7 linked regions of the Homo sapiens genome follow. The protein of the gene in region 4 purifies or fractionates together with the protein of the main gene of each other region. This does not show direct contact. Each region holds a gene or a part of one and is shown on either strand. Other genes may lie near its edges. The genes, in order: CTHRC1, SUCLA2, CNTNAP3, NXPH1, RNASEL, YTHDC2 and UBE3D.

The links.
Region 1: the proteins of NXPH1 (region 4) and CTHRC1 purify together in Homo sapiens (affinity purification with mass spectrometry; one large-scale study listed by BioGRID and IntAct). This does not show direct contact.
Region 2: the proteins of NXPH1 (region 4) and SUCLA2 purify together in Homo sapiens (affinity purification with mass spectrometry; one large-scale study listed by BioGRID and IntAct). This does not show direct contact.
Region 3: the proteins of NXPH1 (region 4) and CNTNAP3 purify together in Homo sapiens (affinity purification with mass spectrometry; one large-scale study listed by BioGRID and IntAct). This does not show direct contact.
Region 5: the proteins of NXPH1 (region 4) and RNASEL purify together in Homo sapiens (affinity purification with mass spectrometry; one large-scale study listed by BioGRID and IntAct). This does not show direct contact.
Region 6: the proteins of NXPH1 (region 4) and YTHDC2 purify together in Homo sapiens (affinity purification with mass spectrometry; one large-scale study listed by BioGRID and IntAct). This does not show direct contact.
Region 7: the proteins of NXPH1 (region 4) and UBE3D purify together in Homo sapiens (affinity purification with mass spectrometry; one large-scale study listed by BioGRID and IntAct). This does not show direct contact.

The regions. Positions count from the first base shown.
Region 1 is NC_000008.11:103,378,038-103,381,537, forward strand, and holds part of CTHRC1 (collagen triple helix repeat-containing protein 1 isoform 1 precursor), read left to right. Parts: coding exon 1-206; intron 207-3,500. UniProt on the Homo sapiens protein: May act as a negative regulator of collagen matrix deposition.
Region 2 is NC_000013.11:47,984,274-47,987,773, forward strand, and holds part of SUCLA2 (succinate--CoA ligase [ADP-forming] subunit beta, mitochondrial precursor), read right to left. Parts: intron 1-3,500. UniProt on the Homo sapiens protein: ATP-specific succinyl-CoA synthetase functions in the citric acid cycle (TCA), coupling the hydrolysis of succinyl-CoA to the synthesis of ATP and thus represents the only step of substrate-level phosphorylation in the TCA.
Region 3 is NC_000009.12:39,285,368-39,289,531, reverse strand, and holds the start of CNTNAP3 (contactin-associated protein-like 3 isoform 1 precursor), read left to right. Parts: upstream 1-1,364; 5' UTR 1,365-1,467; coding exon 1,468-1,552; intron 1,553-4,164.
Region 4 is NC_000007.14:8,432,136-8,436,408, reverse strand, and holds the start of NXPH1 (neurexophilin-1 precursor), read right to left. Parts: upstream 2,801-4,273; 5' UTR 1,654-2,800; intron 806-1,653; 5' UTR 696-805; coding exon 642-695; intron 1-641. UniProt on the Homo sapiens protein: May be signaling molecules that resemble neuropeptides and that act by binding to alpha-neurexins and possibly other receptors.
Region 5 is NC_000001.11:182,579,257-182,582,756, forward strand, and holds part of RNASEL (2-5A-dependent ribonuclease), read right to left. Parts: intron 3,003-3,500; coding exon 2,797-3,002; intron 2,102-2,796; coding exon 1,969-2,101; intron 752-1,968; coding exon of another isoform or gene 698-751; intron 1-697.
Region 6 is NC_000005.10:113,565,694-113,569,193, reverse strand, and holds part of YTHDC2 (3'-5' RNA helicase YTHDC2), read right to left. Parts: intron 3,302-3,500; coding exon 3,175-3,301; intron 2,103-3,174; coding exon 1,897-2,102; intron 1,541-1,896; coding exon 1,345-1,540; intron 1-1,344. UniProt on the Homo sapiens protein: 3'-5' RNA helicase that plays a key role in the male and female germline by promoting transition from mitotic to meiotic divisions in stem cells.
Region 7 is NC_000006.12:83,045,342-83,048,841, forward strand, and holds part of UBE3D (E3 ubiquitin-protein ligase E3D), read right to left. Parts: intron 1-3,500. UniProt on the Homo sapiens protein: E3 ubiquitin-protein ligase which accepts ubiquitin from specific E2 ubiquitin-conjugating enzymes, and transfers it to substrates, generally promoting their degradation by the proteasome.

The sequences.
Region 1 (3,500 bases), on a different chromosome or scaffold from region 4:
TACAAAGATGCGTTCAAATAGTGCTCTAAGAGTTTTGTTCAGTGGCTCACTTCGGCTAAAATGCAGAAATGCATGCTGTCAGCGTTGGTATTTCACATTCAATGGAGCTGAATGTTCAGGACCTCTTCCCATTGAAGCTATAATTTATTTGGACCAAGGAAGCCCTGAAATGAATTCAACAATTAATATTCATCGCACTTCTTCTGGTATGTAAAATTGTGACATTGCAAGATGTGCCTCAGATCTAAGTAAGATTAGTTTTGAGTCCCACTATCATGTTGGTTCACTAGCCTACTGTAAAGGGACCTCTAGCAAGTTTTCAATGCATGATTCTCCACCCTGGGTTGTACTTCTGCATTACCTCTCGATCTTTTAAAAATACATAGATGCCTGGGCCCTATCTCTGATGAACTAACGCAGAATCTCTAGCAGTAAGACCACAGCTTCTGTGTTTTTTAAAAGATCCCCTGGTGATTCAGATGTGCCCCAGGCTTGAAAATCAGTGAGTTAAATGACATGGCAAAATAGCCAATAATGCCATAGAGCAGTGGTCTTTCAACCTTGGCTACATATTGGGCTCACTGTAGGAACTCTGGGAACTTTAAAAAGAAATGCCTATCCCACCCTTCCAGGGAGTCAGATTTAACAGGTCTGGGTGCAGACTTGGCAATGGGACTTTCGAAGTATCTCTTGGTAGGCTGGGCGTGGTAGCTCACACCTGTAATCCCAGCACTTTGGGAGGCTGAGACGGGCAATCACTTGAGCCTAGCAGTTTGAGACAAACCTGGGCAAGAGGGCGAAACCCCATCTCTACAAAAAAAATACCAAAAAATTAGTCCCAACTACTATGGAGGCTGAGGTGGGAGGATGGCTTCAGCCCAGGAGGCAGAGGTTGCAGTGAGCTGAGGCTGCCCCACTGCACTCCATCCTGAGTGATGACAGAGTGAGATGCAGTCTCAAAAAAAAAAAATCTCCTGGTCATTCTAATGTTCAGCCAAAATTTAGAACCACTGGCTCAGACTAATAAGGAGACTGATTTTTCTGCCTTATCCTTTAAAAGGGTGGATACTGTCTGCTGAATTTGTAAAAGACAAAATTTTTATACTGTTTCTGTATTCTGTTTCCACCTAGTATGAGGAAAAGACATTCAGTGGTCACTTAAACTGTCAGAAAAATATCATTGGGTTGTTTTATGTACTTATGTATTTGTTTATTTATTTATTTATTTTAGAGACAGGGTCTTGCTCTGTTGCTCAGCCTGGAGTACACTGGCAGGATCACAGCTCACTGCAACTTTGAACACTTGGCCTCAAGTGATCCTCCTGCTCAGCTTCCCAAAGTGCCATGATTACAGGCATGAGCCACCATGCCTGGCCTGTTTGTTCTATTTTAAGATTCATTAAAGAAAGTTTAGAAAATACCAGAAAATAGAAGAGTTAAAAAAAAAAAAAACTATTAATCTCATCCTCCAGAGACACCACTATCAATATTTTGTTGTCAGCCATTTTGGTTTCTTGAGTTGCAGTGGATGGCACACCATGGTAGCATCAGAAAGTGTACATACTGTTATATTCATATGCCTTTTCATAGAAGAAAAATAAGAAACTATACATATGGTTAGCATCATTTCCTTGATTTCCTGAAGAGATTTTTCACTAATCTTATAATTAAAAATGGTTGAGGGGAGGGAGGAGATAATCTCACTCTTCCCTTCCCTCAAAATAACATTTCAGCATTCTTTAGGGCTCCAAGTCAGGTACTGAACCCCAAAACCAATTTATTCCTAAGCAATCAAGGGCATCCCCTCCACATTTTCCCTCAGATCCCCACAATATCCTTGAAACATAAAGAAGAGATTTTAACCCCCTCTCTTTGCATATTGAGAAACCCAGGGAAATACAGCGTCTTACACGGGACAGTAGAATCAGCGTTCAGGAGAGCAGAAACCAACGCCCTGTTCTCTTGGCTCCCAGTTCTCTTTGTAATCAGATTAAAAACCCTCTTCACTAAGTACTTAGATACATGTGCTGGAAAGGAAGAAGTGCTTCCCATCTAAGAAATAGTCTTTAAAATAAGAAGAATCTAGATATTAAAAATAAAATTTGATTAGGAAGTGATATGTTCAGACAGTCGTTGATATAAGCAACTTACATTCTATTCTGTTATCTTTAAGGTGTGTGTTAATATTTTGCTAATGTAAGCCCTTAGGCCCAGGAACTGTGTCATATACACGCATATACTTTATAAATAATTTAACACAGCATTTCCCAACCATTGTGTGCAAACTCATTTGGTGTGATCAGTTGGGTGGAGTGTCACAAGTAATTTGTTATTAATAACAGTTTTTGTATTATTGTGGATTAAAAGTTACCTCTGTAACAGAATCACTTTTTCTGACATACTGATAGTCTCTCTTAAGGGAAAGGAAAGGGGTGCACTTATAGTTAGCATATCAGAGGATGGCTTAAAGCCTTGATATGCCCATGGGAGTTTGACAAATGGTTGTCATCTGTTACATGGTCTAGGAGGAAAACAGGTTGAGAACTCCCAATCCAACATATCGTTTTTACTTAACAAGCTATCATACTACATTATCACAGCAAAAATGTTCATTCAACATTATTTCATCTGCTAAAGACCATGAAGTGACCATTTGACTGTCCTCAGATGAGGCTGATGCAAGACCCAAGCTTGTCTGACGTCCTTAGGCCGTAGGGGGAAGTGAACAAGTTTCTAGGCCATGGCTGTCAAGACCCTGGGAAAACATGAGCATTTGTAGGCATTTTCACTTGGCATGGTACTAAGAATACCAGATTAAATGGGATTGTGGGCCTACTATTTAGTTCCCCCAACTTGGGAAGGGGACTGAACCAGAGACAGGTCCCTGGATTCTGAGAGACTTGCTCTGGATTTACTCCTGTGATAGTTTATGTAAGCAGATTGCTTCAGACCTACATCTCTGGGTCTCAGCAGGAATGCACTAACCTCAATCAAATAGGAAGCCTAACCAGTCACATAAAGTCATCCACTATATCAGGATTCATTTTCTTTTTTTTCTTTAGTATTATTATTATTATACTTTAAGTTCTAGGGTACATGTGCATAACGTGCAGGTTTGTTACTTATGTATACATGTGCCATGTTTGTTTGCTGCACCCATTAACTCGCCATTTACATTAGGTATTTCTCCTAATGCTATCCCTCCCCCAGCCCCCCACCCCACAACAGGCCCGGGGTGTGATGTTCCCCGCCCTGTGTCCAAGTGTTCTCATTGTTCAATTCCCACTTATGAGTGAGCAAACTATCACAAGGACAGAAAACCAGGATTCATTTTCTTGAATCTGCCAACCTACAGTTTCTTCTCCAGCTTTACACATACATCAAAGGTACCATGTCTTTTTGCCTGCTAAAATGACTGAGGGATTTTTTTTTTTTAATTTAAGAGAAGACTTTGGTAAGATGGAATGCAACTTGTATTGTTAGTAGGTGAAAGTCCAGAG
Region 2 (3,500 bases), on a different chromosome or scaffold from region 4:
AGCTCCGTCTCCTGAGTTCATGCCATTCTCCTGCCTCAGCCTCCCGAGTAGCTGGGACTACAGGCACCCCCCACCACGCCCAGCTAATTTTTTGTTTTTTTTGTATTTTTAGTAGAGACAGTGTTTCACTGTGTTAGCCAGGATGGTCTCGATCTCCTGACCTCATGATCCGCCCGCCTCAGCCTCCCAAAGTGTCGGGATTACAGGTGTCAGCCACCACGCCCAGCCCTACTTTTCACTTTCTTAACCTAAGTTCTTCTTCTCTTGTTGGTATTTTTTTAAATTTGCCTTAAAATAGGCTTAAATGTAAAAGGCTTAAATGAGAAAGCAGCCACATGATATAATAAAGATCTGTAGCAGGGCATCGTGGAATGCACCTGTAATCCCAGCTACTTGGAAGGCTGAGGCAGGGGAATCACTTGAACTTGGGAGGCGGAGGTTGCAGTGAGCAGAGATGGCACCACTGCACTCCAGCCTGGGCGACAGAGCAAGACTCTCAAAAAAATTAAAAATAAAAATAAAAAATAAAGATGTGTATTTAAAAAAAATCACACGAAGTAAAATTAGAATTCTTAAGCACATTTTATAACTATTTCAGGTAAAGTCAAAAATTGACACAGGAAAATGTCCCACTCATTTGCAGAAGACTGCAGTTGTTTTACCAGAAAAATAAAAGTAGTAAATGTGATTTATTAAATAGACTTGACTCAGACCAAAAGTACCCAACAGGCACTAGGCAAATGTTAAGAAATCTAATTTAACAAAGGTATCACACAGAGAGTAGGTACTTGAATTCACTTTCTGGCAAGCCAACCCCATAGAAGTTACCTCCCGGAATCAGGATGTGAAAGGTACTAAAGACCAGTAGAACCTATGATACATCTCCTAAAAACAAGTCAGTAATAGAAGTAATTGTTTTCTGTTTTGTTTTAGTTTTGCTTTGCTTATTCTTTTTTTTTCTCTTCAACTTTTAAGTTGAGGTGTACATGTCCAGGATGTGTAGGTTTGTTACATAGGTAAACATGTGCCATGGTGGTGTGCTGTACAGATCATCCCATCACCCAGGTATTAAGCCCAACATTCACTAGCTATTCTTTCTGATGCTCTCCCTCCCTCCACCCCCACCCCGACAGGCCCCAGTGTGTGTTGATCCCCACCTTGTGTCCATGTGTTCTCATCATTCAGTTCCCACTTTTAAGTGAAAACACACGGTGTTTGGTTTTCTGCTCCTGCATTAGTTTGCTGAGGATAATGGCTTCCAACTCCATCCATATCCCTGCAAAGGACATAATCTCATTCCTTTTTTATGGCTGCAGAGTATTCCATGGTGTATATGTACCACATTTTCTTATCCAGTCTATCATCGGTGGATGTTTAGGTTGATTCCATGTCTTTGCTATTGTGAACAGTGCTGCAGTGAACATACCGATGCATGTATCTTTATAACAGAATGATTTATATTCTTTTGGGTATATACCCAGTAGTGGGATTGCTGGGTCAAATAGTATTTCTGCCTCTAGGTCTTTGAGGAATTGCCACACTGTCTTCCACAATGGTTGAACTAATTTACACTCCCGTCAACACTGTAAAGGCATTCCTTTTTCTGCAAAACCTCACCAGCATCTGTTGTTTTTTGACTTTTTAATGATAGCCACCTGAGTGGCATGAGATGGTATCTCATTGTGGTTTTGATTTGCTTTTCTCTAAAGATCAGTGATGAGCTTTTTAATCACATGTGTGTTGGCCATATGTATAGTTTTTTTTTTTTTTTTTTTGAAACGGATTCTTACTCTGTCGCCCAGACGGGAGTGCAGTAGCACAACCTCGGCTCACTGCAACCTCCACCTCCCAGATTCAAGCCATTCTCCTGCCTCAGCCTCCCAAGTAGCTGGGATTACAGGAACTCACCACCATGCCCAACTAATTTTTTTATTTTTAGTAGAGACAGGGTTTCACCTTGTTGGCCATGCTGGTCTCAAACTCCTCACCTCAGGTAATTCGTCCACCTCGGCCTCCCAAAGTGCTGGGATTACAGGCGTGAGCCACCACACCCAGCCTGTGTCTTCTTTTGAGAAGTGTCTGTTCATGTACTTTGCCCCCTTTTTAATGGGGTTGTTTGCTTTTTTTCTTGAAAATTTGTTTTAAGTTTCTCATAAACTTTGGATATTAGACCTTTGTCGGAAGGATAGATTGCAAAAATCTACTCCCATTCTGCAGGTTGTGTGTTCACTATGATGATAGTTTCCTTTGCTGTGCAGAAGCTCTTTAGCTTAATTAGATCCCATTTGTCAATTTTTGCTTTTGTTGCAATTGCTTTTGGCGTTTTCATCATGAATCTTTGCCCGCGCCTATGTCCTGAATGAATGGTATTACCTAGATTTCCTTCTAGAGTTTTTATAGTTTTGAGTTTTACATTTAAGTCTTTAATCCATCTTGAGTTAACTTTTGTATATGGTGTAGGGAAGGGGTTCAGTTTCAATTTTCTGCATGGCTAGCCTGTTCTCCCAGCACCATTTATTAAATAGGAAATCCTTTCCCCATTTTAACAAAAGCAATTTCTAATGATTAGTTAATTCCCATGCATGGGACATTAACTCAATCACAAGTGCTCTTTGTAGTTTAAATAGGTGACTAATTTTTGTTGTTCAACAGAGATCTGTCCACAGGGATTCCCAAAAACATGGCTATACCCCAAAAAGTAACACCAACCAACTCTACATTGGTCTAATGTGATAATATCAAAGAATTTATAATGTCTTCGGTCAAACAGTTTTACTGGTACTACAGTATTTTTAACCTGAATTATAACCACGTATTATTAGTAAGCAAGTATTAAAATAAAAACATTTTATCCTCAACAAGACCTAAATAGTTGTCAGGAAATTCAAGTTCATAAGATGAACTCAAATTTGATCCTTTTCCCAAATGCCTTAAACATATCTTTAATAATACATATTCAGTATCCTACCTTTACTACAATAAAGATGAATTACTATGGATAGAACTCCTATCTCAATTCATCCAGGTATTTATACCTTGTTTCTGGCTACTGTAACAAAAAGTAAAAACATAACTAACAAAATGACAGATGCCGATATATAATGTCAATGAAAAGAAAAATAAAATGTAGTGAAAATAAGTGAATGTGTAAAAATATAATTTATGTAAATTTTGGGTAATATATGAGGTTACTGTCATGGGATTTTTAAAATAACTTACAAACTAAATTCTATCACATAGAATATCACTTAAGAATAAAACAATGCTTCTTAATTTTATATTCTGAGTGGATTTTTACTACCATCTAGTGTTATATCTTTAGAAATACTTCCTTATAAAAATTAAAAGTTGCAAAAGACATATCATTCAAACATTAATAGATTTAATTGTAAATAAGAAAAATCACAATACAGAAAGTTGTTATTTTTAAAAAAGTTGTTCTACATAAGAAAATTATTTTCATGACTCTTAAAATTTTTGTTACTCTAAATTCTACACAA
Region 3 (4,164 bases), on a different chromosome or scaffold from region 4:
CCATTTTCTCTCTTTCTGTCTCACTGAAGGCAACTGATCTGTCAATCAAAACTTTAGATTTATAATTTTTTCTGTAATAAAAGACGTGCTATTTACAGAGTTCTTGTGCAAAAGTAGTTTAAGTGAACCCAATTAATAATTCAAGAATGACTTTGTAAGATTCTTCATCTATTACATTTGAATTCATTTTACATTTTACATCTATTACATTTGAATTCATTTTAATGAAAAAGCCTTTCAAAGTTGTCTTTCTAAAGGGAAGATTAATACACTATTTCTTAGAGATACCATCTAAAAAAGTATCTTTCTTTCTTTTTTCTTTTTTGGAAACTCGCGGTGGTGGTAATGTGAGTGAGTTTGTCAATCTTTGCCCCTACTGTGAATTTGAGAAGCAGAGGAAGAGAAAAAGAGAAAGACCCCCCCCCCCGCCCCCTGCCTCCGCCCCTCCCTCTAGCACACAGTAGGCGCGCAAGGAGTGCAGTGTTAGCTGCTGCTGGACTGAGCTCCTCATCCTACACTTGCAGGGGTTGCTCTTTTGGACAGAAAGCTGGAATAAAACGTAAATTTTAGACTTCCACCAAGGCCAGGACTAGGGTGAAGGGACTAACGCACTAGTCTCAGGAGCAACTGTTAAGTAACGCTAATCCTGAATGAATGAAATAGTTTTAAAATTGAATGTAATCGCAAAGAAAAAAAAACCCATGATAGACAAAATATTAAAACTTTAAATAAAGGCTTGCACTCGCACAACCCAGGCTCACCGGCCTCTCCCTGCTCCTGGCCCGGTTTCCCAGCTTGGTTCTCTACAAGTCAGAATTCCTAGCAAAATCAAAGTGTGCGCGCGTCTGCCCAAGTACACGCCGCAGAGTTATTTCTGCCCCATCTTCCCTATTTGAACTCAAACAGGACAGCATTTTCCTGGGTGCAGCCCCTGCGTTGGGTGAACAGCGCAGTGATAAAGCCTGGCGTTCTCCACCTGCAGGCGGAGGCTGACGGCGCGGTCTTTGGCGCGAGTCCGTGCACCGCGGCCGCCCCGCCCCGGTGGGAGAGAGGGACGGAGGAAGCTGCCGGTATAACGGGAGGAGAGCGCCAGGCGGAGCTGGGGCGTCCCTCCCGCTCGCTTCTTGACTCGCGTTGCTGCCGGCCGCCTCCCGCGCCTAGTGTCCGGGACGCGCCTGAACCTGCCGCCTCCGTGCCTGGGGTGGCGCCGCGCGGCCCCGAGCGCTCCAGAAAGCTGCGGCGCGAGTCCGCGGGGCCGACCTCGGAGACGCAGCTGGGGCCGGGCGCGGCTTGGCGGGAGGGTCTGCAGCGCCGAGGGAGGCTGCTGGTGCGTGAGGAAGAGAGCTAGAGACTGGACAGGGGAGGCAGAGCAGCGTCAGAGCCGCGCAGGGGACGGGAGTGAGAGCAGGAGCGACGCAGAGCGGCCGTCGCCGTGCCCGGGTCTCAGGGCGCCTGGCTGAAGTGAGCATGGCTTCAGTGGCCTGGGCCGTCCTCAAGGTGCTGCTGCTTCTCCCCACTCAGACTTGGAGCCCCGTGGGAGCAGGAAATCCACGTAAGTACAGCAAATGGTTTAAAACTTGCGCTAGGCTGTCTGGAAAACTTTGTTTTTTTTTTTTTATTATCGGTAATATTTGGAAGTGGAATTGCAGAACATGCTCCTGAACATGAAGAACCTTAAAAAAAATTTGGAATTGCAACCCGAAAAAGACGATTTTGTTTACAATAGACTTTCCTCTTGTGGGGGAGTCTAAGATATACCATGCATGTTTTGACTTTTTAATCGATGTACTTGAATATTCATTGAGAAAGTGGACGTTTCTGTAAAACCTGAAAAGCATCTTAATAAGAGATTAGCGTGCAAATGCTGTCATTTATTCCTTTTTAGGATTGTAATATTTTGTAGGAATTAAGTCTAACAGGGAAAAAACTGGCAGACATTACATCATACTGCATCAACTTAGATGTTAGCAGCTTACAGTTTTGCCGACCTTGGCAGCTTCAGAGTTAAAATGCTAATTAACTTCCATGCAGTATAGGGACAGAGCGCCTGTAGGTGAAACTAAATTAATAACCTGTCCTAACTACTAAGGGAATAACACTTGAACACCCCTGTCAGGGGCTTCGTTTCTCATAGTAGAAAGTTCTTGCTTAAAGACAAAACTCAGCCAGTCATTTAGGTGATCTTGAAAATGATTCCTCTCTGGATGCTAATATTTTACATTATTTAATTTGCCATCAGGTTCCCTGTTTTTTATTTTCCTTAATTTGGTAAACACCTAGGAAGCCTTTATTTCTAGAATGGGCTATGATTCTAATGTAATGATGATATTCCAGACAGATGAGCAAAACATAATGTACCCATATTTTATCACACATAAAAATGTTTACACAACATTGCACATTTTTTTTTTGGCTTGGAGTAAATCTCTAGCAGAGAGTTGTCTTTCTTTCTTGATTAATCAAACCATGAGATTAGAATTTTTAAAATGTCTTCCTCTTCCTTCTCAAATCACTTTTATTTTTCTTTCAGTGGCATCTCCCCGCTGTCAGCCTCAGCCCTCTCCTACCAAAATCTCTTTCGAAATAAGTTCCAATAAACGCCAGTGGCCATGTTTGGAAATTTAGATTATTGCAGGATAACCAAGGGTAGCTTTCAGCAGTTCTCCTAAGCTGTCATGAAAAGTTTGCCGTAGCTCAGTGCTGTTCTGCCCGCGGGCTCAAGGGTGGGTTGGTTCTTCACACACAGGGCACGCACATGGGTTCATGAACTCACTGTGCATCATGATTCAGTTGCGCCTCAGTTAATCCTACACTTGGTGTGCCCTTCCAAAAAACAAGCTCCGGATTCCTTTGGTCAGATGCTGTACCGTGTTTCAGATTCAACTTTAATCTGCTTTTGTGAGAAGGCTTTGTGAATAAAACGTTGTTACTTAAATCAAAATCCTTGGGTCTTGTAATGGAAACTGCCGTTTGGCTTAAACAAACATATAAATGAGCTACTTATAGAAAGGCATGCTAGAGTAATTGACCAATCAACTGGCAAAATACAACAACAAAAAAAGTCACTAGAGGTCACTCTTACTATTGAATAAACAGGGCTTCAAAAAGACCTTCCTGGAGAAAAGCAAAGCAATGAAATCTGAGTGAGACCCTGCCACCACCTTTCCTGTTTTTGTTGCATAGTTGTGATTACTTTTTATTCTCAGGATTAGTTGTATTGGTAGTTATTTTGCTTGGAATCCAGTGGAAGGATTACAAAGCCCATAGAAATTAAGCTCTTCTCGTTTATAGTGAACATTCTTTTTGGAGGAGGGGAGGGCAGGGACAGATATTCCAAATGGACTCAGCACCAGACGGGACTCTCGCGAGTTGCTGAGTGACACGTGAAATTTCAATACTACTACTGTGGGTGTTTTCAGTCTTCTTTCGTTGATGAAACTTAGTATCCTCATATCTAATAAATTTTACTAATTTTAAATTACCTTTTAGATCAAGTAATTCTTCCAGATAAAACTATGTAACTGTAATAATTATACCACCTTCAATACCAAGAAGAAAGTCAATAAGGACATCTAAAAGTTTCCTTCTCATGTAGACACCATGAGTTGCTCACGTTATTCACAGCTGGTTTTCGAGAAGCACATTGGCCACCCACGAAGGCAACCTGTTGATGATGGCATGAAATGGCTCTTCATGGGAAGAGCTCTATAGGCCGGGCACAGTGGCTCGCGTCTGTAATCCCAGCACTTTGGGAGGCCGAGGTGGGTGGATCACCTGAGGTCAGGAGTTGGAGACCAGCTTGGCCACCATGGTGAAACCCTGTCTCTACTAAAAATACAAAAATTAGCCGGGCGTGGTGGCAGGCATCTGTAATCCCAGCTTCTCGGGAGGCTGAGGCAGGAGAATCGCTTGAACCTGGGAGATGGAGGTTGCAGTGAGCCGAGATCCCACCATAGCACTCCAGCCTGGGCAACAAGAGGAAAACACAAAACTCTGTCTCAAAAAAAAAAAGCTTTCTAAACATTTGGCATTTTGGGGATTATGTGCAGTTTATCTGAATGTTATTTGACCCGACAAATACATGGGAAAGCTTTGTTAGGAAGATTCTGCATGAAGGGAAATATTTTCCTAACTTCAGTGCCCATAGACTTGCAGTGAGTGAAA
Region 4 (4,273 bases):
AGTCACTGGAGATGGGATTTAGTTATTTGATGAAAAGGGGAGGTCGAGACGAGAGGAAGGTGGACATGTTTGCTGGAGTATCTCTGTCCTAACTCCGATTGCTTGCAGTACCCCTGATAGTTAAACTTATCCTGTCGGAACCCTTACAAGTCAAAGAAAGTTAACTGCGCTTCTTTATGTGTCTCATCTCCAAATCGGGGAAGTGGGTGGGTAGATTCACTTTTAAACTCACAGACCTGGGCAGATTTGTTCTTTCCACCACCCAACTACACCCCCACTTCCCTTCGTTTAAACTCTGTGCATGAGCTACTGAGAGTTCCTGCCTTCCACTTCTTCTCGTTGGCCCTCTATCACATAAAGCACCCCATCTCACTACCTCCTTGGGTTTAGGGTGTCTGGGGCGCCCTAGCCCCTTTCAAGAATCACGCGCAGGAGACTGGGGGATTGGAGCAGAAAATGGGGTGGGAACCCCGGAAAATCCGCAGGAATCCAGAGACCAGCTTGCCAAAGTTGCTCCAACACAGCTGCTAGGAAGCTGCTCTCACTGAACTGGCGGCGTAACCCTTCTCCCGCGTGTCCCCAGTTTCCTTGCCTCCCGGCCGGGGTAAAAATGCGAAAGCCCCGAACCTTCCAAGACTTACCAAGTAGACGGTGGGCTGCAGGAGGAAAAGCACGTACCAGCACGCAGCCTGCATTCTCCCGCGTCTCAAACTTCCTTGGCGGTGCCTTCTTTGAGTCTTTGTTCCTTCAGAAACATAGATCCACCTGACATCCACTTTACAGAGCAAGGAGCGCTCTCAGCAGCCTAGATGCAAATAAAATTAGACATCCCATGACTACGCGGGCAAGGTTAGGCTTGACAATCAAGCGGGGAAAGGGGGTCGTAGCGGGGAGTGGGGGACCAAAAAAAAAAGGGAGGGAGGGTACGAAAAATTGAAAAGCGAGTAAATCCAGCGCCTGAGACCAGCAAGCGCGCGGTCCGCAGCTGGGGAGGCGGGCGGGCGGACGAGAGGGAGGGTGAGGGGCTCCTTGCCCCCTGCGCTCCTCGGGTGCGAGTTCCCAGGCGGCGGAGCACACTGAGCCGCGTGCAGGCTGGTTCGGAGCCCAGGCTTCTCCGGCAGCGAGACCTGCCCTTGTGTTGGGTGGCCCGGCGGCTCGGACTAAAGGCGGCGGCTGGTTCTTCGCCAGCCCTGGCAGTGCTCACACACGTACACACCAGCAGAGAGAGATAGAGGGGAAAGATAAAGGGAGAGAGAGAGATTGAGCGAGGGGGGCGCGGTGAGAGGAAGAGGTAGGTAGAACTGACCGCGATTAGGTGCTAGGTACCTCAACACGTTCGGTGAAGTGGGGGTGGGGAAAGAGAATGCAATTTGCATACAGGAAAGCAGGGATCAGTTTACCCATTCGAACCCCTGGCGCACACAGAGATACCCACGAATGCTCACAGTCACATCTCTAGCACTACTTTTTTCGAGCCAAAGGGTACAGCCGGTCGCTAACTTCTAGAGAAGAAGCCTCCTCCGAGCTGTGAGGGTCACCTGCCAGGCTTGTTCTCTTTCCTAACCAGCGCCCCTCCCTGCCGTCCCTTCCTCGTGCCCACCACCCCGCTCCCAGGTGTACCCTCCGGGAACAGCGGAGGCAAAGGGTACGTACCGCACAGGACTTGGGGCGAATCCTGCGAGAAGGGACCGCTCTGGGCAGGCTCCATGGAGAAGCTACTCGGGCCTGGCGTCTCCAGCGCCCCGGACGTGCCCTCCCAGGCGCTCCGTCTCCATGCTCGAGCGCAGACGGGTCCGGCTGCCTCGTCCAGCTTTGGCGGAGTCGCCGTCCCAGTGCCCGGGTCGCGCTCAGGATTGGTTCGCGGGAGCCAAGGCTTGGCACAGTTGGATTCACGGTGCAGGAAACTTAAGAGGCAAGAGAGGGAGGGAGCAGTAGAGGAGGAAAGAGAGGAAGACAGAAAGGGAGGGAGAGCAAGAGGGAGGGAGAGAGGGGAATGCGCCGGGCTGCTGCACCGGACGGACTGGGACTGCCAGCGCTGGCACCCGGACGAACAGTCCAGGACTCTCGGCTTCCCACAGCTGCCTGAGGATGGTGGAAATGACTTAAGGGGAGGAGACTGAGCAAGTCCTCTGGACTTGAAGTGGAGAGATAAGACACTGGCCTTTCGGAAGAAAAGAGAACCACACGGCAGACGAGAGCAGTCCGAGTTTCTGAGGGAGGGGTGGGGTGGCGAGAATCTGGAGCCTGCGGCACACGGAGCAGCTGTACCTCTACCCGCGACGCTGGGAAGCCCAGGAGCCGGTCCCCAGTGGAGTCCCGGGCGCTGTCCCTGGTGCTGCCCGGCCACCCGGGGACGCTCTGGAGCGCTTTGGGTTTCCGGCGGCCGCGGTGGTCGTGGTTTCTCCGCAGAGCCGCGGCTTGGCACGCCTACCTTCCTGACACGGACAATTACTTTGGCACGTGGGTGAATGATTCCTCAAAGACTAATTAGTACCCTGTGTAAACAGATCCGGCTCTCAGGCTCTCGCGGGCTGGGCCCACAGGGACAAGTGGCTCCCGCGGTGTCTTCGGTGGCCGCAGCGCCCCCTTCCCGGGGGGCGTAGGGAAGATCGCAAAGCCCAGGGGAGTGGCGGGAAGAGCAGCCGGGAGTCGCGTAGGGCGGGGAAGGGCGCGGGAGGGTGCAGGGCGCCCCTGCCGGCCTCGAGCGCCGACGCCGGGCGCCTCCGACCTGTGGCTGCCGGGCCGGAGGCGGGGGAGCCGCAGACTGCCAGCCATTCAGCTCGAGACAGCCGAGAGGACTGGGCGACCTTGGCCTCTGGACTCCTCGCCGCCGGCTGGGCTGAGCGTGAAGGGGGAGGAGGAGGACGGGGGATGCTTCGAGCCGTCACCACCTCCCTCGCTACTGACACCTCCCACTCAACCAGCGTCTCCCAGACTCGGCCTCTGTGCTCCGACTCTGGCTGTCTCTGTCTTTCTCAGTCTCTCCCTTACTGTCCCTATTTCTCAGTATCTTTCTCACTCCCTCTCTCTCTCTGTCTCCTTCTTCTGTCATTCTTGTGGTCTGCGTCTCTGTCCCTCAGCATCTTTCTGCCTTTTTCTGCCTTTCTGTGTGTCTCACTCAGGATTTCTGACTCTAGGTCTCTGTATCTCTGTGCCTCTACCGTGTCCCTGCCATTCCCCCTCAAACCCTGTTTTGTTTTTTGTTTTTTTTCCTCCACCCTTCCAGTGCACCACCACCAGAGCAGTTTCACCAGTCTCGGGAGACAGCCAGGACCAGCTTCTTCTGGTGCTGGTGGGGTTGCCAGTGCTCCTTGAGCTTGCCCAAATTCAGGGCACAAATCGGAACCCGGAAGAGGGTATCTCTTCCCCAACCTTGCCCATTGCATCTCCAAGCCTGCCCTTCACCAGAGCCTCTCCTGGGGTGATGCACATATCCATATCAATCTGTAGGAATTGTATGGAAATTTATCTCAGGAACCTGAGTTAGTGACATCAAAATCGAATTGTGATATTTAATGAGTCTGGAATGTCCTTTCCTCAAGTGTGGCTGTGGACACTCTGGCAGGTCTGGGCCTAGATACAATGTACACTCTAGACAATAGGTCCCAGGCTGAATTCCCCTGGATGATGGAGACCACCCCTCAAACAAGGCAGTGACAATCAGCAGAGCCACCCAGTCCTGCAGCAGAGGCAAGAGGAGCCCCACTGAGACCTTCCCCTGGAATCAGATCTCCAAAGACCTCCAAATTAGATCCCCACTGTAGAACATACCTACCAGCACTTTGAGGTCTACACTCTCCCTTCCAGCTAAAAATAACTCTTTAAAGAGCAAGCTCTTCTAATCTTAAAAGTTGTACTCTGCTGCTGTGACCTCCTGGAATTCATTGGGGCATATGCAGAATAAAGCAGTGAAGCACACCTTCTAACTGTGTCTCTGAAAATCCACTTCAGAAAAAACGCACATGTACATATAGCATAATTACAATGTTTTCTTGACTATTTTCACTTACCAGCTATTTCATTTTCTTAAAAACTTTAAACTTTAAAGAAGAAAAATTAAAGTATTGGGGCACCCGTATCTGAGGCCAAATGGTCAAAGCAGGGGCAAAAAAAGCTTTGTCTAATTCCATCCTCTAGGATTCATAAGGCTATCCTAAAATTGATTCCTATTTGTACAGGAGCTCCCAGGCCTCCCAGACTGGAGTGTAGAGCTGGAGCAAATGTTGCCTGCCTCTATCTGGATTCCCAGCTACAATGCTGTCAGAGCTGAACT
Region 5 (3,500 bases), on a different chromosome or scaffold from region 4:
GCAGGTGTCCCAGGGCAACTCCTTTCATATCACAGTAATGTCATCCTCTTTGTCTGTGCTTGTCACCCTCATAGATACAGAGCCATAGATGGCTCTCATATTTAGAAAGAGTTTGGGCTACGAGATCAAGATGCAACAGTCAAGAATCCAGTGGGTCACTTAGGAAGAGTAACTGATGAAAGAGCAATGCTAGTGAGGATGCTGCTGAGACTGGCCAGGTGCACTCTGTGCAGAACACCCGTGAGAAACGCCAAGCACGTATGTGTGGCAGGATGGGGCAAGTCAAGAACCAATACAGTCATACAAGCTGGAAAACTTGGGCTCCAGACCTATGCTGACAAAATTAATTGTGTGACCATGAAAATGGGCAAGTCAACAGAAAAACAAAGTGTAAAATGGGAATTAAAAGGTAAAACTTGAAGTTAAAACCTGAAGACTATCAAAATTCAATATAAGCCCATGGAATTTAGGGAAAAGAACCAATAAATTGGGAAATAAAAGAACAAGTTCCTCTTTCCAGGTCTGCCAATCTCTGACTGTCCAGCATGAGTAATTTGAGTGTGGTCTCTGAGCCTCAATTTCCTCAGTGAGTAAATGAGTTGGTAGACTTGATGCCATCACAGCTTCATGTAGTGGTGTGGCTTAAGCACATGGCCTCTGCAGCCATCCTTCCCAGCTTCAAATCCTGGTGCACCCCTTACTGGTTCTGTGTAGTTGGAAAAATTATTTGTCTGTGCCTCAGCTTGCTCATCTGCAAAATATAGATGATTGTCTCAGAAGTTGTGCTAAAGATTAAATGTGGTAACTCATGTAAAGTCTCAAGAACTATGGCTGCCACATAATCATAATGATACTACGTAATCATTAGCTATCACTATCATAGCTGCTTTCAAATTTCTTTGTTTCTACAAGTTAAAATTTTAGCCAAAGTTTGATAGACATTCATTTAGTAAAGAGTCATGGCACATCTACTCCATGCCAGGGATACAATAACTGACAAGACAATGGGTAGTCTCTGCCTTCATGGAACTTACAGTCTAGCAAGGAAAATGGACCGTAAGCCAGTAATTATGAGTGTGATGTGCAGTCTAGAGACCAGTGAGGGAAGGAAAGCAAAACAAGAATTAGGAGAAGCAGAGTCCCAGGTCAGGTCTAGGATAGGAAGCTGTTGGTTTCCAAGACCTGAAGATTATGGGTTCTCCCATAGTGCTTTGCACATGTCCCTGGGATGCCCAGCACACATCCCACAGCATCATTTCCATGGGCTTCTCAGCCCCACAGGGACACATTGTATTCTGCTTTGTATGCTCAAGGCCTTGCATGGGCCTAGCACATAATTGGTATTGTATAGATGTTTGTTAATTAATAATGAAAGTTCTGACAGTACTGACTAGATTGAGATGATGACTAATTTTGTAGAGTTCCACTATAATTAATGCAAGTTAGGTGGAACTTTTCTTAAAGAGAGCAATTTGAAAGATCATCTTTCCTTCATAGTCTATTTCCTCAGGCAGAATGTAGGTCTGTGTGTGGATCCTGAGAGCTGGGCTGTTTACAGGCAGTGGAGGCAGCCAGGCTGTACCTGGACTGAAACACCTCATGGTGAAGCACTTCCCTTGGATTAAGCTCTATTTAGTCAGCTGCTCGTGCCATAATGGCAATAGGATTATCAGCTAAGTGAGGGAAAGGCTCATGGGCTGGGATAAGGCCATCCAGGGGGAGCCTGAATAACAGTCTATCAGAGGGGCATGGGTCTGAATGGGAGAGAGGGAGGGCCAGCTTCTGAAAGTAGAAGTAGACACCCCGGCAGGGAGCCTAGGGGGATAGGGATGGGAGGGCAGGAGGCAAAATCACCTCTTTGAGCCTCTGGTTTGCCACTGGTGTAAAATAAGATAGAAAAACTAACATAAAACATTACACAAATTCTTATTCCTGGACTAACCCCTGCACTATAGGAATTGTTCATACCTTAGTCGTCCACTTGTCAAAACTTTTGGAATGTTCAGAAGGCCCAGGTTGCAGTAGTCTGAGGATCTCACTTTCAGATTTTCGTGTTTTGATGTCGGATTCATTTCCCACATTCCGAAGCGTCCTATAGCGGCTGAAGATGACTAAATGATCTAAATGATCATGATCATCCCATCCCTCCCTTTCCTTTTCCAGAAAAAGAAAACCGTTAGATTTTGGTGTTTTTTGTGCTTTCTTGGTTTTTCTTTCTTTTTTTTTTTTTTTTTTTTTTTTTTGAGATGGAGTCTCGCTCTGTCCCCCAAGCTGGAGTGCAGTAGCGCAATCTTGGCTCACTGCAACCTCCACCTCCCGGGTTCAAGCAATTCTCCTGCCTCAGCTTCCCAAGTAGGTGACATTACAGGCACCTGCCACCACACTCGGCTAACTTTTGTATTTTTAGTAGAGACGGGGTTTCACCATGCTGACCAGGCTGGTCTGGAACTCCTGACCTCATGATCCACCCGCCTCGGCCTCCCAAAGTGCTGGGATTACAGGCGTGAGCCACCGCGCCTGGCTAGATTTTGGTTTTTAATAAAAGTAATACAACCATGTCTTCAAAAATTCTGCATGATAGGAGAGGCAAGCATCTCTTTTTTTCCCCTCCTTATTCTTCAGAAATGAAAAGCAGACTCCAGAGAGGTTAAGTCATCTCTCCAAGGACACACAGCCAGTAAATCCCAAGCTAAGAAAAAAGCCTGGGTCTCCTGATTTGCAGCCCAGACTTCTGTCTGCACCACCTTACCCTTTCCATCCTGGAGGCCTGTGGCATCTGCACAAAGTTTTACTTACCTCTCCCAAGTCCAAAAGAAGGGATGACCCAGCAGGTCACTCAGACAGTCCCTCACATGTTCCCCAGGATGGAAGAGACGATGAATGAGGTCCTTAGTTTCCTCATCTGGAGAAAGTTGAACCACCTCTTCATTACTTTGAGCTTTCAGATCCTCAAATGAGATGCTTCCCTTCTTTACCACATAGAGGACCAGCCGTCCAAGGTCCTGCACAAAAGCCATAAATCAAGCCAAAGATGCTTACTAATTATTTGGGTAACCCTGGAAGGAGTGGTGCACGCTATTAGCAAACAAGATGATGGGAGGAATCTCAAGGAATTTGTAGGCTTGTTAGGGAGGGAAGGCACAGATGTGTGCATACAGACCTCTTCAAGGCAGTATATCGCCCATACCACTTAGTTTTATGAAGAGTAAAAGATACATATAAGTCACAGTTGTTAGGGCAGACTGCTTGGAGGAAGAGAGATTTGAGCTGGGCCTCAAATGTATGGACAGAATATAGATAAATTGAGGAAAGGGAGAATGCTTTAAACACAGGGAGAACTGACAGCCTGGCTGGAAACTGGGACTTTGGGTCTGAGGCTATGTCACGCAGCAAATAAAAAAGTCAGTCCAGGCCAGGAGAGGCAAAGTGATGACCCCAGGGATTAGGCCGTGGCCAGGAGGAAAGGCCAAGAAGAAGGTCGCCTAAGGAACTCTTTGCAC
Region 6 (3,500 bases), on a different chromosome or scaffold from region 4:
AACCCATTAAAAAGTGGGCAAAGGACACGAACAGACACTTTTCAAAAGATGTACATGTGGCCAACAAACATATGAAAAAAAGCTCAACGTCACTGATCATTACTGGAATGCAATTCAAAACCACAATGAGATCAGAATTGCTATTATTAAAAAGTCAAAAAACAACATGCTGGTGAGGTTGTAGAGAAAAAGGAACACTTTTACACTACTGTGTAATTAAATTACACTAGTGTAAATTAATTCAACCACCATGGGAGACAGCATGGTGATTCTTCAAAGACCTGGAGGCAGAAATACCATTTCTGGGTAAATACCCAAAGGAATATAAATCATTCTATTATAAAGATAAGTACATTTGTATGTTCAGTGCAGCATTATTCACAATAGTAAAGACATGGAATCAACCCAAATGCCCATCAATGGTAGGCTAGATAAAGAAAATATGGTACATATACACCATGGGATACTATGCAGCCATAAAAAGGAATTAGATCATGTCCTTTGCAGGGACATGGCTGAAGTTGGAAGCCATTATCCTCAGCAAACTAATGCAGGAATGGAAAACCAAACACCGCATGTTCTCACTTATAAGTGGGAGCTGAATGATGAGAACACATGGACACAGACAGGGGAACAACACACACTGGGGCCTACTGGGGGTGTGTGGTAGAGGGTAGGGAGAACATCAGGAAGAATAGCTAATGGACACTGGGCTTGATAGATACATGATGTCATGATCTGTGCAGCAAACCACCATGGCACACCTTTACCTATGCAACAAAACTGCACATCTTGCACATGTACCCCTGAACTTAAAATAAAAGTTGAAGGAAAAAAATGCATTATGCCACTTCAATGTGATATACTATTTTGCAGTCATTAATATAAAATACTAAAAATATTTTTGATATCTCTGTAATGAAAATAACAAAATATAAAATAACAGTTTGGGTGAAATAATTTAAAATATGTAAACATGTAGAAAAAATATAACATTAAAAAGTGTTAGCATGAGAAAAATGAGATTATGGGTGGCTATTATTTCTTTTACAATTAACTTTATTTACGTTAAACTATCATTTAAATTCAAGTGGAAAAGAAAAATTTCTTCCCAACAGCAAGATTAATAAAAAATGCACAAATAAACATCAAGTTACCTTATAAATAAATTTCAAAAACAGTAGTATACCTTAGTATTTCCTAATTAGTCTTAGTACATCAAAATAGAGCTGCTACTATATAAATCTTTATAATTTCATTATTTGGTTTAGTAAAATAATTTCATTATTTGGTAAAAAAAAAAAATTCATTTCAAATAGATTTTTATTTCCTTAATACATTTACCTCTAAAGGATGAAGGTTCCTGAAGAGCATTACTTGCCAATCTAGCTGGTCCACAGAATACCAATATAGTGACAGGCGTCACTGCTGAACAACATCTAATATTAGCTATTCTATGGGCTCTGGTCATTTCATCATAAATAAGCCAATCTGTGGGCAGTGCCTTAATTGCTGCAGCTTGACCATTGGCTGGAGGAATCTATTAAGAAAATAAATTTTAAAAATTGTTAATTGTGTTTATCACCTAGTTTATTGGAAATACTTTTAAAATGTAAAGTCTCTCAATGAAATAGATGATGTATATTAGTACGTAAGCAAAAATTAAAACAAGTCATCGCTCATGTAGTTCGTACAAAAGTACTCATTACTTAACATGTTACCTTTTCCAACTCTAAAATTTATAAGTTTTGTTCCAATATTTAATGATATATATATATATATATATATAACTAATTAATTTCTTAAAGCAGGCAGGTATTTGGAGCATTTTTCATTGATAGTGAACTACCTAAATTAGTTTCACCTCAAAACCCAACAGCATTCAAAATCTTTTACCTTTTTATATTGAGGCTGACTGAGAACTGAAGCAGGATGAAATCGTACTTTTTTCTCCTTTGGCCCTGTCAACACTAGATTCTCTCTGTCCACGTGGACTAAATTAGGATACATGCCTGCCACCAATGCAGCTTTAACGACAGCCCAATTCTCAGAGTTTGTGTTAACGTCCCGAATGTCACCACCACCTCGTGCTCTAACAAAACCTAGAGGGGAAAAAAACCACACCAATTTTTCTATTGTGCAAAAGATACTTTTGTGTATTTTTTCCAAAAACTTGTACAACTCATGTAAATTTTGTGATATTCAAATTTCACGATAATTAATAGAATCTCCTCTGGAAAGTTGTTTAAAATATGAACCACCCCTCCCCACCCTAAAACAGATACAGAACCAACATTCTAGGGAAGTGTAGATCTGCTCAGGTTAGATTAAGTATAAGAATCACTTGGGGCTTAAATTTTTTTAGATCCACATTCTTGCAATAAAGTTCTTCATAATCTGCTGCCAGAAACAAACTAAATTCATAGCTGGAAACCCAAACCATTCTTCTGACTGTTATTAACAACATTTTGGTTATGATAGATACTAATTCTGTAGATGAAGTCAAGTAAATATATGGTAATTTTTGCTTGAGTTTCAAAAGTCCTTCATATTTCCTTATGTTCAAGTCAACTCTTAAGTCCTCTGGTTCATTCCTTATATTACTCTGGCACTTCAGCTAACCCATGAATCCAGGCTCTGGTACTATTCTTCTGACTACCACATCAATTTTTTTTTGCTACTCAAAAAGGCAATTCTAAAAGGTAATAGCAATACTAGCATCCTCTTCAAAAAAAAAAAAAAAAAAAGGTGACTTCAAGTATTACTAGCTGTTTTTGTGTTCCAAAAATATGAAGAGCAGCATTCATATCAATTTTTTAAAATTTCTATTTCACAGAACTAAATAAGTATTCATTAATGGTGATAAAAGAAAATAACTATAAGATCTAAATTGATCTCTGCCAACCAATACAAATTGTTCATTGCCAACAGTATCACAAGCATATAGATTCTGTCCCTAGATTTCTCAAATACACCTCCTGCAATAGCATTTTTTCATCAACAAGCAAAAGTTGAAGACATATCGAAGTCTACAAATCATGCATGAATATAAGATACACAACATGATAATGTCATAAAAATAATAGATGGCATCAGTTAACATAAGAAATACTATGAAATATGGGCAGGGTACTCTCAGTAACTTAAATAGGCTCTTTGAGGGAAAAACTTTACCTGATGCTCTAAGTTGACCAAGCAACTGTGTTCTCATGCCTATGATTATTTCCATAGTAGCCTGTGAAAGAAAATTCTTTTCACAAAAGGCTCGCTCCCACCCATCACTTCGTGCTTTTTGCCAGGCCTATAAAAAGAGAATAATTGCATAACAAGACACATTTACTAATCGCTTCTTAGTGAGGCAACAAGTAACTACAAATCACTACACGAATTCCTCGACGTGAATTTGCCTTATTCTAATTTTCTATAAAATCTAAGACTTTATGATCAAATAATATTTATCATTAATTTATACTCAAATGCTAAAAAAGCCATTGAGTTTA
Region 7 (3,500 bases), on a different chromosome or scaffold from region 4:
AAGTATTTTCAATGCTGCTTTAACTGGCAACTCTTAAATTACTGGTGAGATTCATCTAGTTTTGCTACTTATAGTCTACTGTGTTTCTTCTGTGAATTGTGATTAGTGACTATTTTCCAGGGTGGTATTATTATGTTCTTATTAATTTGTAAAAATGTGTTCTATATTAAGAGTATTAGCCTCATGCTTATTAATCTGTTACAAATTTTTTTGGTGTTACTGCCTTTTATTTTGGTTTACGTGTCTTAATGGTCAGATCACCTAACAACTTTCTTCTATAATTTCTTCTATTACTATATTTTAGTAAACTTTTCATTTTGGAATAACTTTAGATTTACAGAAAACTTACAAAGGTAGTGTATTAGTTCCCATATACACTTCACCCAGATGGACCTAAACTTACTATTTTATGGTACCATGGTAGATTTGTCAAAACTACACACTTTGAATTCCACCTGTTTTTCCACTAATATCCTTTTTTTCTGTTCCAAGATCTAATTTATGATAATACTTTGCATTTAGTCATCATGTCTCCCTAGTCTCGTCTGGTCTATAACAGTTTCTCAATATTTCCTTATTTTTCAGACACTTGAGATTTTTGCAAAGATCAGGTATTTTACAGAATATTCTTCAATCTGAGTTAGTCTAATATTGTCTCAAGATTAGGCTGGTGGTATGGATTTGGGGAAAGAATCTCACAGAAGTGAAATGTACCTTTCTCATCACATCAAATCAGAGAATATATCATATCAACACAACTTAGTGATGCTAATCTTGATAACTTCGTTAAGGTGATATATGCTAAGTTCCTCCTTCTAACAAAACACAAATACTAGTAAATTAATGTACATTCAGATGTTATAAGTTAAAACATTTAAAATGTGAATGCTACTTTTTTTTTTTAACAATTCCCCCATGTTAACCATTTTCCTTTGATTTCCCCAATCAACTGAGTTGCATAAAAGGGCAATTACAGTTCAGAAGAGGGTACACAATTTATAACTGCAGAGGACAAAGCTAGAAACAAGAAAGGCTGATTTTAGTTTAACATAAGGAAGAACTTTTCCTTTGAAATTAGTATATGCTGCACCATTGGTATCATCAAAGTGCTGAGCCTGTTAAGCATACTGAGAAGTGATTCTTTCAACGTACATTTCCTATAAGTCTACTATGAATAAGGCATTCTACTGGCACAAAATATGAACACATACAGTCCGTCTCTCTTAAGGTACTCATGTTCTAGTAAGAAATATAGACCTACAAACAAATAACAAAAGCACATGTTATAAATGCTGGTAACAGAGTAACGGTTCTAAATTCTTGCAGTTGGCGGGGGGGGTGGGCGGTGGCACCGGGGGAGCAGTACAGATCCCTTTGAATATTTAAGAAAAGTGTTAGCCTCTTTCCTCAAATGTACATTTCTACAAGCACACAAAATCTGCATATTACTTTAGGGGATTCATGGATCCCCAAGACCAATCCATGAATTCAAGGCAATAAACACAAACTGCTACAAGAATAGATTGTACACAGACTTCAGAGAAGAGGTAACATCTGAGCTGGCCTTTGAAAGATAAATAGTAGTTCTCCAGGCAGTGAAAGGAATTAAGGGCATCATGGAAGAGACAATATGAAGGTAGATGCCATATATGTTTACCTTGCCACTGTATTTCTACTGTCTTACATTGCTCCTAACGTATATCATGAGCTCTTAAATATTTGTTGAAGAAATGAACTAGCGTATTTTGATAACTATAATGTGTGAAGCCCCTGGTTGCGTCTGTTGCACACTGGAATTAAGGGGTTAAAAACCTTTTCCCTTGCTGCTTGAGAATCTGATCTTTGGTTTAGCCACCTAGCTCTGTTACCCTGGAAACCAGGTAAGAGCTTAGGCATCCACAATATTGCTAGGCAACACTGCTTACGGTAAAAATGATCCTTGGTTGGTAAACTGCATCTGAACCAGGAAGAAATATGAATGAGCTGTAAATGTCTGATAGGACACTTTGGCCTTCCCTGAATGCAGTTTCTTCTTGGGAACCCTACAAACTATATCAAGAATTGTTACAAGAGATACTGGCTGCTTAAGGCAGGAGGCTTCTTCTGAGCCAGGGCAGCTCCCGTACCTCCCTGATGTGGAGCTTAGGCTTTGTACCTGGAACTACGTCGTGTGGGGAGACAACAGTCCCCAGAAAGGTATGTGAGCTGTCATTTGTGCAAACATGCAGAGCCCCTGCTGAGAGGAATTCTTGATGCTGCCCTGCTGGCAAGCTGGCAAGGAATGTGGCCTGTGGTAGCCTTGTGAGTCCACATGTTTAGTTAACTTAAAAAGACCCTTGGTGGCCACTAAACACACCTTATTTCATTTAATGCTCGCAACAACTTTGAGAGACAGGAAATACCATTTTCCTGTACAGAGGAGGAAAGTGAGGCTCAGAAATGTTCAATAATCTGCATTAAGCCGGGCTCGGTGGCTCATGCCTGTAATCCCAGCACTTTGGGAGGCCCAGGCGGGCGGATTACGAGGTCAGGAGATCAAGACCATCCTGGCTAACACGGTGAAACCCCGTCTCTACTAAAAATACAAAAAATTAGCCGGGAGTGCTGGCGGGCACCTGTAGTCCCAGCTACTCCGGAGGCTGAGGCAGGAGAATGGCCTGAACCCGGGAGGCGGAGCTTGCAGTGAGCCGAGATCGCGCCACTGCACTCCAGCCTGGGCAACAGGGAGACTCCAGCTCAAAAAAAAAAAAAAAAAAAAAAAAAATCTGCATTAAGTTCACAGAATCAGAAGTGATCAGTAACGGCAGGTCCTTAGAATATATTCCTTCCCTGGCAATGCAGAACAGCCATAGAGGAGGAGACTTGGGCAGGTAGGATGGTGGCAAACTGTGTGGGGTGTTCCAGGCCACGCTAAGGGGTAGGGACTTGGTACCTCAGGTGGGTAGGAAGCATTACAGAATTTTAAACAGAATAACAGGTCAGATTTGAATTTTACCAAGAAGAACCAGCAGAAGAAGAGGGCAAATAAATTGCCTGTTTAGAGTGGGAGGGAGTTAGGCCTAAATAGGTTCCTGGACTTTCTCCATCATTAAGATCTTTTGTCTCCTGACATACTGCATGTAGTGCCAATAAACAAACCCTCAATACAGTGCAAAAGACAACAATGTCAAAACCCCCTACATGATCAGGGAAATAAAATTGCACCAAGATTTACAGAGATCTGGGAGACAACTCACATTAACACAAAATATGATATTTTAAACTTAATGTGACCATATATCATGTGAATAAAAGCTATAATATGTCCTAGAACCATCTACATAAGACAGCAGGAGCAAGAAAGTGCCTAATCTGCAAGTCATTGCAAAGATAAAAGAGTTTTTAAAGCAGAAAAAATTTTTTTGATGTTTTGAAGAAAACATAAAACATTTAAGAACAAAAGATTTTAATCATTGCTTTACTGAAAGCATATTTATCTAAAACCCTGAAAAATATACTTT